Linked DNA regions of Homo sapiens: all the other regions are linked to region 2. The links come from fine-mapping of genetic effects on gene expression. A gene starts in region 2. Each other region holds a variant in brackets. All regions are shown on one strand. Distances are between the middles of the regions.

Region 1 (2,761 bases), 34 kb after region 2:
CTCTCTCCCTTTTTGTGGAGGAAACTCTTTTCTCTTTCACAACTCTCCGCAGTAGACTGCACCTGTTTTTCACTTTTTGGCTTCAGCTCCGAGAATTTCAGCAATAAGCAGTTTGGACAAGGGGAGGAGAGTTTGCACTATTACCATTAGGGGAAGATTTGCAAGGTTTGTGATGTTGCTCCTTTGGAGGCATTTGAGCCATCAGTCTCAAGGCTGGGAGTCAGGGTTTGGTTCAAGATTAGGGTCAGAGGTAGGAATGTGTCTCCTCCCTAGGTTCCTCACTGCCAGCTCTTCTCTGTAGTACTAAGATACCTGGGAGTAGGAGGAGTGGGAAAGATGGGACATAGCCACCCACTAGATTCCCTGAGGGACAATCACAAGAGCAGGGTAAGGATGAGAAGGTCCTCTCCCAGATTCTCCAGACCTCCCTGGGCCTATCACAGTGCCTATATATCCACCATCTGAGATCCATTCCTCCCTTGGAAAGTGAAGCTAAATGGAACATTCTTTGGAAGCAGGTTCAGCTCCCCTATCTCTCATCTCTGGACTCTAGGACTTCACCTTCCTGGCCCAGCCAGCACTGTCCCTCTCCCTTATTGACCCATTTTCCTATGCCCCAGAGCTGAGTTAGAATAGCTGGAGGAGAACTTGGCCTAGAACATGCCCATTCTCTACCGTGGCCTCCCTATCCTGGGAATTGAGAGGGATTTTTGAGGAGAGGGTTTGGTCTGCTCACAGAGTAACAGGAAAAGAAAGGAATGAGGGAGTCCTGAGAAGCAGGCTTACTGTGTACTGGTTGCCAATTTGTCTGAGTCCAGTGGGAGAACACATCCAACAAGTTATATGAAATGGATTTATTACTCTCAGGTAGGCAGCAAGGGAAACAGAATCCCAGGATTAATTGTGAGGCAGCCCCCAAGGCTCAGGAAAGCTGCCCAGGGCAGATGGCTTCATCTGCCTATGCTGCACTTGCACTGCAGCCAAGGACTCCAGAAAGCAGCCTGCCTTGGGTTTTATACCCCAGGGCAATGTGAATTCCTGGGCTAAAACATTGAAGGATATTGTTTCTGGGGTGGGACTAGAAGAGAGCCTGTTCCTTGTCTGTTTCTGTCACCTCTTCCTTATCTCAAGATTTTGCATTCCAAGTGAGAAAGGGAGGAGAACTGGGTCAGTGTACGGTCACCCAGAGAACTGTTCTGCCAGACCCAAGAGATAGACCTCTCAGAAGACACTATTGTGGAGTGCTATTCTGTTTCCCATTCCAGATCTAGAGTATATAGTGGAGCAGATTTAATTGCCTGTATTTTTCTGCC[TCATC/T]CATCCATCCATCCATCCATCCATCCATCCATCCATCCATCCATGTGTCTATATGTCTACTCATCTTTATCTCTTCATCAGCCCATTCTTCCTTCTTTCATCTTTCATTTATTTTTTCATATATTCATTGTGACCTGTTCATCTGTATGTTCAACCATTATTCATTTATTGTTTCCCTTCATTTGTTTGTCTCTCAGTTATGGTAATAATTAACATTTATGATACTTAAGTGCCAGGCACCATGCAAAATGCTTTAAATTCATTGTCTCATGACAAATCTATGAAGTGGATTGCTGTGGGCTGTTTTTGTTTATGCAGACCACTTTTCTACTTTTCTATACCCCTTTTTGTGGTTCCTGTAGGAAACTCCTTTCCCACTTAACATGGTCTTGGTGGGGCTGTCAGCTACAGTGCTCTGATCAGAGTACCCCTTTTCCTGGCCACTGTGATAGACTGAAGAACTGAGTATGTATCACAAGTACAGTTAACCAGAGCTTTCTATGAGATTTGATGTTTGGATGCTAGGAGAAAGAGAGTCTCTTTTAGATCAATCAATATAAAAATTTAGGCTTAAGGCTTCTAGTGGCCATATTTCTTGCTACTAGAAGAGCACCTGTATCTTAGACCATTTTCTGTTTCTTAACAGAATACCTAAATCTGGGTAATTTATAAAGAAAAATAATTTATTTCTTACAGTTATGGAGGCTGAGAAGTCCAAGATTGAGGGGACATACCTGGTGAGATCCTTCTTGCTGGTGGGGACTCTCTGCAGGGTCGTGAGGTGTGGCACAGGGCATCACATGGTGAGGGGGCTGAGTGTCCTAGCCCGTGTCTTTTCTTAGGAAGCCTCTAGTCCCACACCCATAATAACCCATTACTCCATGGATGGATTCATCCATTCATCAAGGCAGAGCCCTCATGACCCAATCACTACTTAAAGGCCCCACCTTTCAATATTGCTACATTTGGGATTAAATTTCTTTTATTTATTTTTAATTTGTTATATATTTTTAAGAGACGAAGTCTCACTCTGTCGCCCAGGCTGGAGTGCAGTGGCATGATCATGGCTCACTGCAGCCTTGAACTCCTGGTCTCAGCCAGTTCTTCTGCCTCAGCTTCCCAAGTAGCTGAGACTACAGCTACAGGTGTGCACCACCATGCCCAGCCAGGGATTAAATTTCAGCATGAGTTTTGGAGGGGACAAATATTCAAACCATAGCAACCTGTCTATGACAGGAATGAGATCCCTACACAAAAAGATTAGTCAGAGCATGGTGGCTCATGCCTGTAAACCCAGCACTTTGGAAGGCCAAGGCGGACAGATCACCTGGGGTCAGAAGTTTGACACCAGCCTAGCCAACCTAGTGAAATCCTGTCTCTACTAAAAATACAAAAATTAGCCAGTCGTGGTGGCATGTACCTGCAGTCCCAGCTACTCGAGAGA
Region 2 (2,761 bases):
TGTCTGTCTTGTCTTTTGGGGTATTGAGAGCATTTCTGATTACCCATTGTCTCCCCAACAGTTGTTGGAATACTGTCTGGGCAAAATTGTGCCTGGGCAGATAAAAATCAGACATGTTTAATAGGAAGTTGTTATGTTTTGTTTCCCCTTGACAGAGGAAAGCAAGAGTCCCTCAGCTCTGCCCCAACCAATCACCTGTGGCTTATGGGAGGGTGGAGGAAGGGAACCATGAGGAGGGCCCCCCCAACACACTCCTTTTCCATGCCATGCTCCCCGCAATTGTGGGCACCCCCCGCGTGAAGGGACCCACTTCTCTGACAGAGCCTTCTTACCCACCTGGGTAGAAGACCTCACTTTTGGTGGTGCCCTCTCTCCACTGGTGGAAGGTGCCAGAGATGATGGTATCCGAGATCTCAGCCCAGTAGCGCCCTGAGTGACAATCGCACATGACACTATCAGGGTATTCGCGCCATTGCATGGCCCAGCCAAACATCAGAAAGGAGGGCATGGGCCCCTTTACAACCCCAGCCTCCCAGTCTGGCCCGCCGCTAGCACTGACCCGAGTGGCCGCGGGAGCCCAAGGCGGTGCCGAAGAGCAGCACATACTCGGACAGCGAGGCGTGCAGAAGGCACATGGCGCCCATCCAGCCACCCGCATTCACGAACACCCACTGCAGCTCCTCGTCGGGCAGCACGTGGCCTGGGTGCAGCCGCCGCAGCTCCACGATCAGACGAGAGAAGGCCAGCTCGTGGTCCAGCCCTGGCGGAGGCAGAGGGGCGGCGGAGTCAGGGCTGGCACCGGTCCTAGGTCCGGGGATGGCGCCTTCGGAACCCTAGGCTCCGCTCCCAGGCCGGCCGCTCCCCTCCCTGCCCTCTGCCCGCTCACCAGCGTACTGCCGCGCCAACTGCGCTATCTCTTCGCGCTGGAAGACGAAGCTCTGCGTACCCAGCCAGAGCCAGACGACCTGGGTCAGCACCGCTGCGACAGCCAGGAGCAGCGCGGCCCACGCCCACCGCCGGCCCACGGCCCACTGCATCCCGGCGGGCGGCCTGGCACGGCGCAGCTCAGGAGGGAGCCGGGGCCTGAGGCTTTGCGCTCACGGCCTCGGAGCCCGCCGGCTGCCCACGAAGCGCTCCCCCGCCACCGCCGTGGTACGGCTCGCCCTGACCAATCGGAGCGGCCCGGGCACCTTGGCACCGCCCTTCGGTTGAACCATTTCCTCGGGGGGAGCACGGAGGAGTGGGGCGGTGCCGCGCAAGGGAGGCAAGGGGGCGGGGCCAAGTCGCCCAGCGGCAGATGTCAGGGTCTTCAGGCGAGGTCTGACCTAGCTAGCGCCACTCTACATACGGATAGGTGTGGGGATAGTGAGACCCAGAATGGACGGGCTCGCCCGAGCTCACTGGCTGGTGAAGCAGACGAGCCCGGAAGTGAAGCCTTCTGGGACTCAACGATTGTTAAGGCCCGCCTTTACCAGGACTGAAGCGGAGAGGAGGCAGTTCAAGCTGGGAGCCCCAGGGTGGGCATTCCAGAGGCGGTGACACCTGAGCAGTGTCTTTAAGAGCTCGCAGAAGGGGCATGCCAGCCCACAGGGACCAGCCCCTAGAGCAAAGGCCTCCGAGGAGAGACAGCTTGGGGTCTTCAGGGGCCTACAATTCCTTCTCTGTTCTGCGGCACAAAATGTGAGAGGAGGCCTTGTAAACCAGCTGAGGGTTATCAGCAAGGGAGGAAGGGGATTAGATTTTGCCACCGAGTGGCACAGGACTGTCGAGTGGAGGGGAGCAAGATGAGTCAGGGAGACCATGACTGTGGGCCAGGTAAGAGGGAAGGTCTGTGTCAGTGGAGATGGAAGAAAGAAATGAGCTTAACAACTCTGGAAATGGAGTTGGCAGGGCTTGATCTCTTCTTCCTGGAATACTCTTTCCCCCTTTATCCTATCCCCACTTTCCCCTTATTTGGCTAACATCCTTTGCATGTCTAGTGGGCAGTTGAGTGTCCAGGTCTCGAAGCTCAGCTCCAGTCTGGAGATAGAGCTGGGAGTTGTCATTCATTCAGATACTTTGTTGGCACTTGTATGTGCCAAGTTCTGTGGTGGCCATTAGGGATATGGCTAGAAACAATGGTCCTACTCCCCAGCTTAGAGATCTCACTGGAGAGTCTACAGAAAACCTCTAAGAATGGATGAAATCTCACAGGGAGAGAGAATAGAGTAAGATAAGGCTAAAGACAGAGCCCTGGAGAGCACCAACAGCAAAGGGTAGGCAGAGGAAGAAGAAAGCAAAAAGGAAAAGAAACAAAAGAGAAAAGAGGTAGCATTGTGCAGTGATTAAGAAATAAACTCTGGAGCTGGACTGCCTGAGTTCAAGGCCTGGCTCCTGCTACCTACTAGTTGTCTGATCTTGGGCAGTTTACTTAAAATCTCTGTAACTTAGTTTTCTTACCTGTAAAATGGAATGGAGATAAGTACCTACCTCATAGTACATATCTTCATTGTGATGAGATTAGATGGGTTAATATTTATAAAGCAGTTAGTGCCTCACATGGTGAGAATTTTATGTGATGGTTATATATATAAAACATAAAGGAACTGGAAAAAAGTAGCCTCATACATTTTTGACCTTAAAGAAAGAAACTGAGGCCGGGCGAGGTGGCTCATAACTGTAATCCCAACACTTTGGGAGGCTGAGGCAGACGGAACACTTGAGTCCAGGTATTCGAGACCAGCCTTGGCAACATGGTGAAACCCCATCTCTGCAAAAAGTA
Region 3 (2,761 bases), 47 kb after region 2:
CCCGCCTTGGCCTCCCAAAGTGCTGGGATTAAAGGCGTGAGCCACCATGCCCGGCCAAAATATATACTTTCAAAACAACTTGGAGGCTAGGTTCAAGTTGAGAATTCTTGAACTCCTTGGAGATCCATGATGGAATGAGGTGGTAAGGGGAGAGCCCATCACCAGCCCTCCACTTGTCCCTCTCCTCTTCCTATCCACAGTTCTATCCTGCACCATGAAGGGTCTCACGTGTCTGGGTGTAAACACTCCAGCCCCATACATACAAGCTCCTTCTACATTCCCTGCAAATAGCTACTTCTTGGCTACCCTCTGGACCTGGTAGTGTGTATATCAGTAACATAGTCTATCCTAGGAAGAACAAATCTGAGGAAGAGGCCCATAATGATATTGGAAGCTACTTGGGGGCATTTGGGCAGGAAATTCTCTGTTTTTCAATTCCTGAAATATGGTCTAGAAGAAAAGAATGAGTTCTGGGTGGGTGCTCCCTTCGTCCTGTGGACTTTTTTTTCCTGTGTCCAGAGATATGATTAGAGGAGGGCCAGATCAGGGTCATCTAAAACATGGGATGCAGGGCAAGGGCCCCAGTTGTCTGGACATAAGCATTGTCCTGGCCACTTGGCATCGCCTTTTGGTGGTGCCACCATGCTGTCTTGGAGGCCTATCTGGACCATCTGTACTGTACCGTATGCTCTGGGAGTGGTTCTGGCTGCCTAGGCTCACTTATTCTCGCTATTTTCTGCATCTTCCCAGGGTCTTTTTAATAAACTCCTTTTCTGTTGGAATCAGCCAGTGAGTTTCAGTGGCTTGCAAGTAAGAATCCTGATCCACACTTTTGTTTATTTGCCTTTTGTTTTTGGAGGAGAGGGGGAAGCTTCATGAAGACCAAGACCATATCTATCTTGTTCACTATCGTATCACCAGCACCTAGAATAGTGCCTGGAATGAATAAGTGTTCTGGGTTGCAGACAGTGATGAGGCATCACTTTAGACGTGAGGGGTTTTCCCAGGGCTGGAAACCTATGTGATGGCAGCGCTGAGACTACTGGGGGCCTTACACTAACATTCAGAGTGATACTCTGGCACTCAGTGCTGCCATACCAGGAGCCATTTACGTAGACTACAGAGAGGATGGTGCCCCCTGGAGTTGTGCAGTGCTGCTGTCCTGCCTCACAGGTTTAAGTGTTCCTGACAGTGGTAGGGTTTCCTGAGAGGAATGGTGGCTTGATAGTAATGGGGGGACCTTGACATTAATGGGTGTCCTGTCAGCAATGAGGACATAATAGGCATTGGG[A/G]CATCCTATCAGGAATGGGGGTTCCTCAACTGATGAGCACTTTGCAGTGTTGAGGCCCTGACAGAAGGGCTGGCTTCCTCTTGGGAGAGGACCCTTGAAATGATGGTTTGGCAGGAATGAGGTCGACGTGGTGATTGGGGTTTGGATTGTGTTAGGCTCAGATTTCCAGGGACTGGGATTCTGAGATCAAAAGCCCTAGGAGATCTGGTTGTCCCAGAATGGTAGTGTTCCTGTGGCTGGGGTGAAAGCTTTCCCACCTCTGCCAGGTTGGAGCCGAGGGTGGCTCACATCTTCTGCATCCCCCTGGAGCCACGGGGAAGACCCAAAGGCCCTAGAAGTAGGGTGGGGAGGCCTGATTCCCTCATCTACCCTGATCCTTAGAGGTTCTGTCCTTGCTGTTTTCCTCCAACCCTGCCCTGCCTGCCCCTGGCCCCTTGGGAGATGGAAGTGTCCCTCAGAAATGGGCCTTTTGAGAGTTGATGCTGCCTTGCTGCCCTCAGATGCTTTGCTCTTCAGAGGTCCTCTGCCACCTGCCGATCAGACGCCTGGCCCCACTCCTTTCCAGGAGCCCTGCCTGTCACAAGGTTCCTTGTCCTGCCTCTACCCCTACCCTCCAGATCCCCAGCACTCTTCCTACATTCCTCATTTCCTTTCAATATCACCAGGTCCTGGCATCTGATACTCCCCTGGGAATAGGAGTAGGGTGGGCATTGCTGTAGCCCAATCCCCTTCTCTACTCCTCTGTTGTTGGGAAAACTGAGGCCTGAGTAAACTCCCTCTTTGAGGCTCTGGGGAAGCTGATGCTCCTTCTACTGCAGAGGCCCAGGAAGCTGGAAGCCCTCTAGGGTGTGTCTTTGTGTCTGGGTTCAAGTGTTAGGACCCCACCTTTGGCCACCAGCTTCCTCTCTTGTTTTTTCCCCAGCTCTTTCTAGCAAGCTGAGCTTTTCTACCCCAACTAGACTTCCCAGCCCCCAGCCCTCAGTCCAAGTGCTGCCCATCAGTCAGGCTTAGACTGCAATCCCAGCTTTGCCACTCACCAGTTGAGTTGACTTGGGAGGTCATTCTCCTCTGTGCTTCAAATTCCTTATACATAGAATGGTACTAATGATACCTCATGGGATCGTTTGAGGGTGCAGTGATGTAGTGCCAAGAAAGGACTCAGCTTGGAGACTCGCACATGGCCAGCACCCAAAAGTAGTGGCTTTCCCTATTTCCATGGGCTGCTTCTCCACATCTGGCCTTGCTGTACTGTTCTCCATTTGTAATTAGGAGATAGGTCAACTCAGAGAAGTGGTATGTGTAATAGTTCAGAGTAGATATTCTGGAGCCAAACTGCCCAGACAGGAACGCCAGCTCTGCCTTTTTTCTAGTTGTCTATCCTGGGCAGGCGACTTAACCTCTGTACCTCAGTTTTCTCAGCTGCAACATAAGAATGGTAATAGCACTTAAAGCAGTGCCCAGTACCTGGTA

Alleles and levels. Positions count from the first base shown, and alleles are read on the strand shown. Sizes are in standard deviations (SD) of each study's normalised expression. Not every link is listed here.
In carriers of allele T in region 1, the expression in B cells of the gene that starts at base 1,127 in region 2 tends to be higher than with TCATC alone (moderate effect, 0.40 SD a copy in CEDAR).

Evidence for each region.
Region 1: its variant is fine-mapped to the expression of SIGMAR1 in B cells (CEDAR, PIP 0.95).
Region 3: its variant is fine-mapped to the expression of SIGMAR1 in whole blood (TOPMed, PIP above 0.99).

The regions. Positions count from the first base shown.
Region 1 is chr9:34,670,494-34,673,254 of GRCh38, forward strand. It overlaps a transcript of PHF24 not described here. Among named protein-coding and RNA genes, the nearest start is that of CCL27, 9.2 kb to the left of the region's middle. The variant TCATC/T (reference allele first, on the strand shown) is at 1,314.
Region 2 is chr9:34,636,661-34,639,421 of GRCh38, forward strand. SIGMAR1 (sigma non-opioid intracellular receptor 1) reads right to left here and starts at 1,127. Exons shown (of 4, transcript NM_005866.4): 1 at 887-1,127; 2 at 560-760; 3 at 337-429. The coding sequence starts at 1,037. RefSeq lists a silencer at 877-1,366.
Region 3 is chr9:34,683,305-34,686,065 of GRCh38, forward strand. It overlaps a transcript of PHF24 not described here. Among named protein-coding and RNA genes, the nearest start is that of CCL19, 6.6 kb to the right of the region's middle. The variant A/G (reference allele first, on the strand shown) is at 1,292.